3 separate regions of the Homo sapiens genome follow, and regions 1 and 2 are each linked to region 3. Evidence: fine-mapped expression QTL. A gene starts in region 3. Each other region holds a variant in brackets. All regions are shown on one strand. Distances are between the middles of the regions.

The links. PIP is the estimated chance that this variant, and not a neighbour inherited with it, causes the effect.
Region 1: its variant is the best candidate, but not a certain one, in a credible set for the expression of PELO in platelets (CEDAR, PIP 0.87).
Region 2: its variant is the best candidate, but not a certain one, in a credible set for the expression of PELO in whole blood (TOPMed, PIP 0.50).

Annotation. Positions count from the first base shown.
Region 1 is chr5:52,821,355-52,824,119 of GRCh38, reverse strand. The region is part of intron 1 of ITGA1 (integrin subunit alpha 1); the gene reads right to left. Among named protein-coding and RNA genes, the nearest start is that of PELO-AS1, 22 kb to the right of the region's middle. The variant G/A (reference allele first, on the strand shown) is at 1,466.
Region 2 is chr5:52,831,281-52,834,045 of GRCh38, reverse strand. All of the region lies in intron 1 of ITGA1 (integrin subunit alpha 1), which reads right to left. Among named protein-coding and RNA genes, the nearest start is that of PELO-AS1, 32 kb to the right of the region's middle. The variant A/G (reference allele first, on the strand shown) is at 1,536.
Region 3 is chr5:52,786,689-52,789,453 of GRCh38, reverse strand. PELO (pelota mRNA surveillance and ribosome rescue factor) reads right to left here and starts at 1,538. Exons shown (of 3, transcript NM_015946.5): 1 at 1,040-1,538. ITGA1 (integrin subunit alpha 1) reads right to left here and starts at 1,538. Exons shown (of 29, transcript NM_181501.2): 1 at 1,040-1,538. The coding sequence starts at 1,100. The region is part of intron 1 of PELO-AS1 (PELO antisense RNA 1); the gene reads left to right. RefSeq lists an enhancer at 1,571-1,850.

The DNA of each region.
Region 1 (2,765 bases), 35 kb before region 3:
TATATATATATTAAAGGTCATGAAACAAAGCATAATCAGGGCTGAAGAAAATTAGGTCCCAGATCATTAAGTATGAGAACATAAAACAAATATAGCACTCTTAAAGTAAGGCCCATTTTCTTCAAGCTAGAGCTCTTTAAATATCTGACATACTATCACCAGAATGTGCTAATGATATTCCGTATACTTGTAAAATAAATTGGCAAACGTTGATAATATGTTTAATTTATTTGTAAAGCTACCACAGACATACAAAAGTCAATTCTGTTTTCTAAGCATGTAGAGGAAGTTGAAAAGAAATGCTGAAAGCACTTTCCCCTTCTTTTTTCCTTGTTTTCTCCTAGTTTCCAATTCTTTCTTTTCCTTTGTCTGTATTTTAGCACTCTCTGCACTGCTTTCTCAGTCTCCGTTGGGATATTTAAAAGCCAACCACAGGCTAAACATTGATCAAGTAAATAAACATTTAACTGGTGTGGGTTCTGCCTACAGCAGGATCATGTGACAAGATCTTAGGAGTTAGAGGACCTCCATTTTCCTAAGGCAGGAAAAGGTTGAGATGCCCAAGAGAATAAGATGGACTTATTGGACATAATCATCACCATTTAAAATGATTTGGATAGGTGCCATGGCTCACACCTGCAATCCCAGCACTTTGGGAGACTGAGGTGGGTGGATCACTTAAGGCCAGGAGTTTGAGACCAGCCTGGTCAACAGAGCAAAACCCCATCTCTACTAAAAAATACAAAAATTAGCTGGGCATGGTGGCGCAAGCCTATAATCCCAGCTACTCGGGAGGCTGAGGCAGGAGAATTGCTTGAACCCGGGAGGCGGAGGTTGCAGTGAGCCAATATCGTACCACTGCACTCCAGCCTGGGCAACAGAGCAAAACTCTGTCTAAAAATTAAAATAAAATAAAATGATTAAATACCTCATACAGATCTGGTGCTACCATTTTGGTCATTCCATGAGTATCTCTCTCCGAGGCTTGTCTAAGATTCAGAAGGATGTCAGGAAAGTCGGGGCACCATTGAGAGAACTCACTCACCTTAAAGCTTGTTAGACCTGGTTCCTTGGAGCCCTCTTTTGACCATGCAATACAAACTCGATGTGTCCTTGAGGAATCTCAGAAGGCTATAGCTGGAAAAGTCCCTATTCGACCATCTAATGAGACAGTGTCCTCAAATGATGAGAACACTGATGCCCAAGCAGTTGAAATATTTTGCCTAATATACTGTGGCTAGTTTAAGTGACCAAACCTAGAGCAGAAAACAATTTTCTTGCTCTGATTCAAGTTCCCAGTCCACTATCTCACACTATGAAGCACATAAAAAGCAGTGATGAACCATCTTCATTATGTGTCCCTGGGGTGTAATTACCGATCATACGAAGCAGAAAGATTAGAAGTAATAGGCCTTCTGCAGCTCTTGCAGCTGTGTTTCCACTGGGTGAGACAGTGTCAAGGGTA[G/A]AGGCTACAATACGAACTGGCGAGGGAGGAGAGCCAAGTGACAGACTTCCAGTCAGCAACAGGCTTGGGCCACTTGGCCAGGAGCCACCTAAGTGTCCCATATCCCCTATGCAGAGCAGTCCGGATACTCAGCCTCCAGCTCTTCTAGGAAACTAGCAATGCAGATGCCTCTATGAGTTTGAGATTGTCTAGCTCTGCCCAGTCCAAACGGAAGTGTCCCTGAATCAGTGGGAGGAAGAAGAGAGGCAACTGGTTGGATGAGGACTGAGTTTCATTTTAATTATCTTTGTATCCCCAGTGCCCTAAGTAAAATCGAAGCTCAAATATGTTTATTTGAATAGAGTAACTAATTATAGCCAGAATGTTGTCACCAATCTACTGTAGGCAAAACATTTGTCTCCTCTGAGCCTTGATTTCCAAGTCTATCAAGTAGAAATGTTAATAATGATCCTTGTAGTATTGTTCAAGGATTGACATAAAATTCCACATATGAACACCATTTGGAAACTCTAAAGCACTCTAGCATATAAAGGATAAAAGGTCAGGAAACGGCCTCCACATGGCAAATTCTCAAATAGTCCCATTGCCAATTTTGTTGTTGACATTCTTCCATTCATAAAATATATGCAATTTAAGTTGCAAGAAAACAGATATTTCTATTATAATGTGATATATTCATTCCTAAAAGCAATCTTGTGTTTTCTACAAAATCACACATAAAAATCATACAGCTTATGATAAAAACAGAGTTGGGGCAGTCAACTCAAAGTCCATACACCTTTTTAGCTAAAACATAAAGTCGAAACAACTCAAATAAAAATACTAGCATAATTTTAAAGGCATTTAGATTCCTAATAAATTCTATACTAAATAAATGATTACAGTGGAATGAAGTAAGAAAATGTTAAGGCTGAATAGTTGTGGGGACAAGGGCAAAATGAACTAAGTTTGGGGCCAATTATATAAGCCCTTCCAAGAAATCACACACAGCAAAACTAGGCAAAGAGGAAGAATACAAGGAGAATGGGAATTCCTTACAATACTGTATGAGTATATGCTTACTGTGTCCAACTCTTAGTGTATTTGGCATTCAAGTGGTGGCATTGGTAGTATAAACATTAAGGTGCTAGGGAAAACTGAATTATAGTGACTTATGTATTATAGTGACATCATTTTTCCATTTACCAATTCTGTATGAGCAAATTTCCTTATAGCAACATTCATTGGGAGGGAATATTCTTATTTTTTATGAATATCAGTGGGGCCATCTTCACACGGAATGGGGTGAGGAGAGCTGTCT
Region 2 (2,765 bases), 45 kb before region 3:
ATATTGCTAAAGTACCTGATCTTCATAGATTCATTGGTAGATGATGTGTTTAATAAAATTTGTTGAATGAATGAATATATCATATGAATATTCTTTTTCCATTAGGTGTCTTATTGATTCTAATTATTATCTCATGTAAGTTTGCAATTCTATACTACTTCATCCAGCCAACTGCTTTTCTTTTTTCTTTTTCTTTGTCTTTAATGGCACAATTCCACAAAGTTAATATACCTCCCCTTTAAATGGCCACATCATAGTTTATGGAGTTATATTTTAATTTAGATAAACATTTATCAGAACAACTTCAATTTGCTTAAAAAATATTACACCTAAATAGACTCTTGCAACAAAATAACCTTGTTCTAAACTATAACTTTATGATCACATAAAGAAAAAACTCAATACCAACAAAAATGGCCCAGGAAAAGTAACATTAGTTAACACTGAATAAGCTTTCAGAAAACTCTTAACTCTAGCAAGAGCAAGGTAGTAAAATCAGATGGAATAATTTAAGAGAAAGGTAAAATGTCTGGGGTATGCATGTTCACTAGGAAACATTTTTCCAGAAAATACATTGTCATAATGTTTTATGGAACCCATAATACAATCATATAGTATTATGAGTTCTTTTAAGTCCTGTAGAGTTATAGAAGAAGTACATCTTACATAACTGTGTGAACAATTAAGTTGCATTAGGCTTGGTTGTACTCTTTATGAGACAACAGTCAGTTTACTAAGGGTTCCAGATGGTAGCTTTTCATAGTAAAAGTCTGTTTTACTGTCTTTTCAAAGATGGCCTTTTAAATTGTAGTACACACAGGTAAAGGCTAATTTCAAAGCATTTTTTTTTTTTTGAGACAGAGTCTCGGTCCGTCACTCAGGTTGGAGTGCAGTGGCACTATCTTGGCTCACTGCAGCCTCCACATCCTGGGTTCAAGTGATCCTCCCACATCAGCCTCCCAAGTAGCTGGGATTAAAAGTGTGTACCACCATGCCCAGCTAATTTTTGTATTTTTAGTAGAGATGGGTTTTCACCATGTTGGCCAGGCTGGTCTCGAGCTCTTGAACTCAAATGATCTACACACCTTGGCTTCCCAAAGTGCTGGGATTACAGGTATGAGCCATCATGCCCAGCCCAATCTCAAAGCTTTTGATGGCTTAACAAAATGAAATAAAAAAGTAACCAAAAAAAATCTACCAAAAAAAAACTCTTTTGAGAAATAGCACCAGAAGACACACACACACACACACACACACACACACACACACACACACACACAGATTTATATATTTCTGCCAGAATAAAAAGGGTCTTTTCGATACCTATAATATTTTTCAGTATTTAAATCTGCTTCCAAGTTCTAGTGATAGTGTTCATTCTTTATTCTAACATAGTGTATGTAATATTTGGTTATATAATTCTTGCAAGAGAGATGTATTTGACCATAGGTGTAAGAAAATATGGAGATTAGAAGAACTTGTGTAGAATTATTTATGACCTCCTAATATGTGATTGTTTTAGTGATAAATCATAG[A/G]ATCTTATGGGTAGAAGGGATGAGACCTCAGCTATTATTTAATTTGACCCTTCCATTTCATCAGAAGCCAACAACTACCTTTTTTGGCATCTATTCTACTCCAACCAAAGATTTCTGAAGATGCTGCAATGTTTTTAAGTGACTCTGCCACCCAGGCCACAGCTGACAAGTCCAGGAATGAGTATCAGATCTGAATGAGCCATCTAGTTACCTACACTCTTGGCCACCGTTGATTAATTCTATGGGGACCAATCAGAGTATGAACTCTCTAATCTCAGGTTGGCAGCCTGGAGTAGGCTCTTGTCTTGGTGGAGAGATCCATGGAACAGGAGGCTCAAGAGCTTACATGGGTCTGATTCTCTCCAGGAAGCAGGGTTATAGTGTGGCCTAGTGAAATCAAGATGAGGGAAGGAGAGAGTTCTAAAGTACAGAAGGGAACTGAGATTGGGTAGTCCAGTAATGAGCCCCCAGACAACTTTATTTCTCCACCGTGGCTGGGGGAAGAATGAGGAGGAAGAATGAGGCAACAGAGCTAAGAAATCTAGATGGCTACAAAGACATGACTCATTGTTTTCTTCTTACTTTATTTTCCCCAAAAAGCTCTTAAAATTCTTAAAAGGACAGAGAGTAAAAGAGAAAGACTGGGCCTACTCTGCAGTTGATAACAAATATGTTAATCAATGTATAGACATGACTATATTATGAATATGTTATATTCATTCAGCGGACATTAATAAAAGTCCCATGTGAAAGGAAAGGTAGAAGGTCTTTAAGGGATTAAAAGGTAAAAAAAATATATTGTCTCTGCCCTCAAAGAATTTGTAGTCACTTGCGAGATGTATTTAAGATGTAATTAAATTAACTAATCTTTAAGGTTAAAAAAAAAAAAGAAAAAATTCTTAGGAGCCATAAGTGATTACTGTTATTGTGATGCCAATTTTATGAATCCTAAAAATTCTAGAGTTTTTTTTTCTTTTCTCTTTCCTATTTAATCAATAAAGAGGTCTATGCTATCTAAAAGTCATTAGAAACAGGTATCTTGAGACTTAGTTTGGGTAACCCTCTGTGTGACTTTCTGGCTGGGTGCAGTGGCTCACTCCTGTAATCCCAGCACTTTGGGAGGCTGAGGTGGGCAGATCACTTGAGGTCAGGAGTTCGAGACCAGCCTGGCCAACATGGTGAAACCCCATCTCTACTAAAAATACAAAAATTAGCCGAGGTGTGGTGGTG
Region 3 (2,765 bases):
AGGCAGGTCTAAACTAGCTGGCTCTACCCTGTTTTTAGTGGTAAAAATGCTAAATTAACTAGTACTAATAACCATGCCAGCAGTAAAAACACTGAACAATTGAATATCAATGATATGTTAAAGCCAGCTGTTAATTAACCCATTAATAAGGTGATTTTCTTTCACACAGAGATTCTATCGATACACTTTCCCCCCACCTTCTTCCATTTTTCACCATTTCAACTTTCCCCCACCCCAATCAGTAACTGGTAAAAAAGATCTGACCATGAGTTCATTATTGGGAAAATCTTACAAAATGCTATATTTCAAGCTTTTTCTAAATTGGATACAACTTTGCATTTCCACTATGTTTTTAAGTCCCCTCCTTAAAAATACACATTTATGTACAAATAACAATACTATATTTTGCATCTTAAAAGTAGACTGCCCTGTGATATTTACAGAGAAAATGTTCACCATTCCTTTCTACGTTTCAAAATATCCCTCCTCTTGGGTGCTGACATAGAAACATCATTTTGGAACAAGTGGCAGTTTCGTCTTGCATCCCTGCCTTTTCTTGTTCTGCATGGGAAAAAAGCCTAAATAGTAGACAGCAAGAAAATTCAATAATGTCCACTCTGGAACAACCCGAGGGTAGGAATTTTGCATATGTATCAGGCGCCCTATAAGCATCACCCTCCCATCCCATGCCATAAAAAAGGGTGGAGGGGAGGAAATATTCAGCAAAGTCCTAATATACAATGTGTATTGTAAAAACAACTTTAATTTTAAAAGTGAATTCTACCTTCTAAGGTTTTCAGTGCTGCCTCACTCCTACTCCTAGGGTGAAGGACTTTGGAGAGACACGAAAACTAATTCATATCAAAACCAGAACGCGAAACTCCTGCCTGCCCCGTAGCCTGGCCTGAGTACCTGGAATGCCCGAAAGTGGATGGGCGCTCTCTCTTCCTATCTGGCCCATGGCTCTGAGGACCTCCCTCCCCGCTCCAAGCCCCAAGCCCGCGAGCAGGAGATGCTCAGAGAAAAGCGAGTCGCTCACCAGTGAGGAGCCAGCAGCAGGCGACAGCGACCCCTGGGCGGGCGCGGGGCCGAGGGGCCATGGCCGGAGCAGCCTCAGCGCCAGGGGGCCGCGCTGGTTCGCAGGGCAGGACCGGGCGCGGGAGCTGCGCTCTCTGGCTGGGCCACTTATCCCGCTGCCGCGGTTCCCAGTCCTCTGCCCCAGTGGCAGCGGCGCCCAGGAGCGGGAGAGGAGTGATTTCCTGTGTTTTCGTCGAATTCCTCTAAATGCGCTCCACGCTTTTCACATCCCAGACGGATTGCCACATCGCCCGCCCCTTCGCGCTCTTGGTCTCTGAAATCTCACTGGCAGCTTCCCAGGCTCTGTCCGAGACATGGACAAATAAAGCCAGCTTCGCGGGTCCGTGTTTAGGCTAAAGTCCACGGGCTGTAGAAGCAAACCTTAAAGGGACATCTGCCTTTCATTGAGAGGGTGATCTCGTTCTCCGGGCCAAATCCCCTAAGGTGGTAGGAAGGCGGGTAAGGGCTGGACCTTCGGGAGGGTGTTGCCAGCCCAGTGGCTCCGCCTTCACACCCCTTACTTCTCCCGGCCCGGGCAGGGAGGGCGCTTTGACAGTGCCTGGGCGCCCTTAACGGGAGGCAGCTTTCCCGGGTCCATTGCGCAGAGGGATTAGGCCGTCTGTGAAAATGCGAGGATCTGGAATCCCCCCTTCCATCCCCTGCGGACACTTGAAATTCACCGTGAAGTCGTTTTGCACGAAAGGGGGCGTCCCCACCACCCCGACAGGCTCCACTGAGGGCTTTGCTTTCGCTTATGGGGGGGTGGGGGGGTTGCTTCGTTTATGGTAATTCGTGGTTAAAGGGTGGTTGCAGATAAGCTTTTCTTTGAGATAACTAGGATAAGGGGAGAAAAGGAGAAGCAAGACGGAGGAAAAACAGTAAGAGGGAGAGCGAGAAGGGAAGAGAGGAAGAAAAGCAGCCTCCTTGGAAATGGAATGTGTGTGGGCTATTTTGTTTAAGTGAATTAGGATGTTTGTACGCTGGTAATTGAATCTAATAAAGAACTCGGGGCACTACTTTATTTTTTTCTTGCTTGAAACTTTCACGAGTGAAAATGCATTAAGAGTCCAGAAGTGCTTAGGAACTTGCAATGCTTCCCTTTCCTGGTGAGTTGAACAACCTCTCTGAGTCAAAAGCCATATTCACCCTAGCTTCAACCAATGCTGGCTATTTTCAAAATAGCTGTGTCTTAGCGGTTTTGAGAATTTCAAAGACAGAAAGAATAAGTGGATTTGTGTTTAGAGGAATCTGAGGGAAACAGTTCAATTCAATTCTTCAACTCAACAACTAATTGAGCATCTCTAGCAGAACTAGGGCTAGGCAGGACAAGAGTGCCACCCAAAGGAGGGTTCGTTGAGCAGAACGCAACACAGGTAGCACAGAACAGGTAACACGAGGGACAGGAAGGAAGAAGCCCACAGGGTTCACTGGATACATTGCCAGATAGAGGATCACAGCAACTAAAAGCTGGAGAAGACAAAAGTTGAAGAAGTTTAAGGAGCGTCAAAAATGGGGTGGGCAGACCCAAGGAGGTTGAAGGCCATCAGATCTCAGTATGTTGACCCATTAATCAAGAAATTCCTTTTCTATTATGTATCTGAACTGATTCACTATTTAGTAAATACATTAAAAATCTCGTTCTCCCGTTTTTAGTTTTTATAATGTCATTTCTCAGTTCTGTCTTCAAA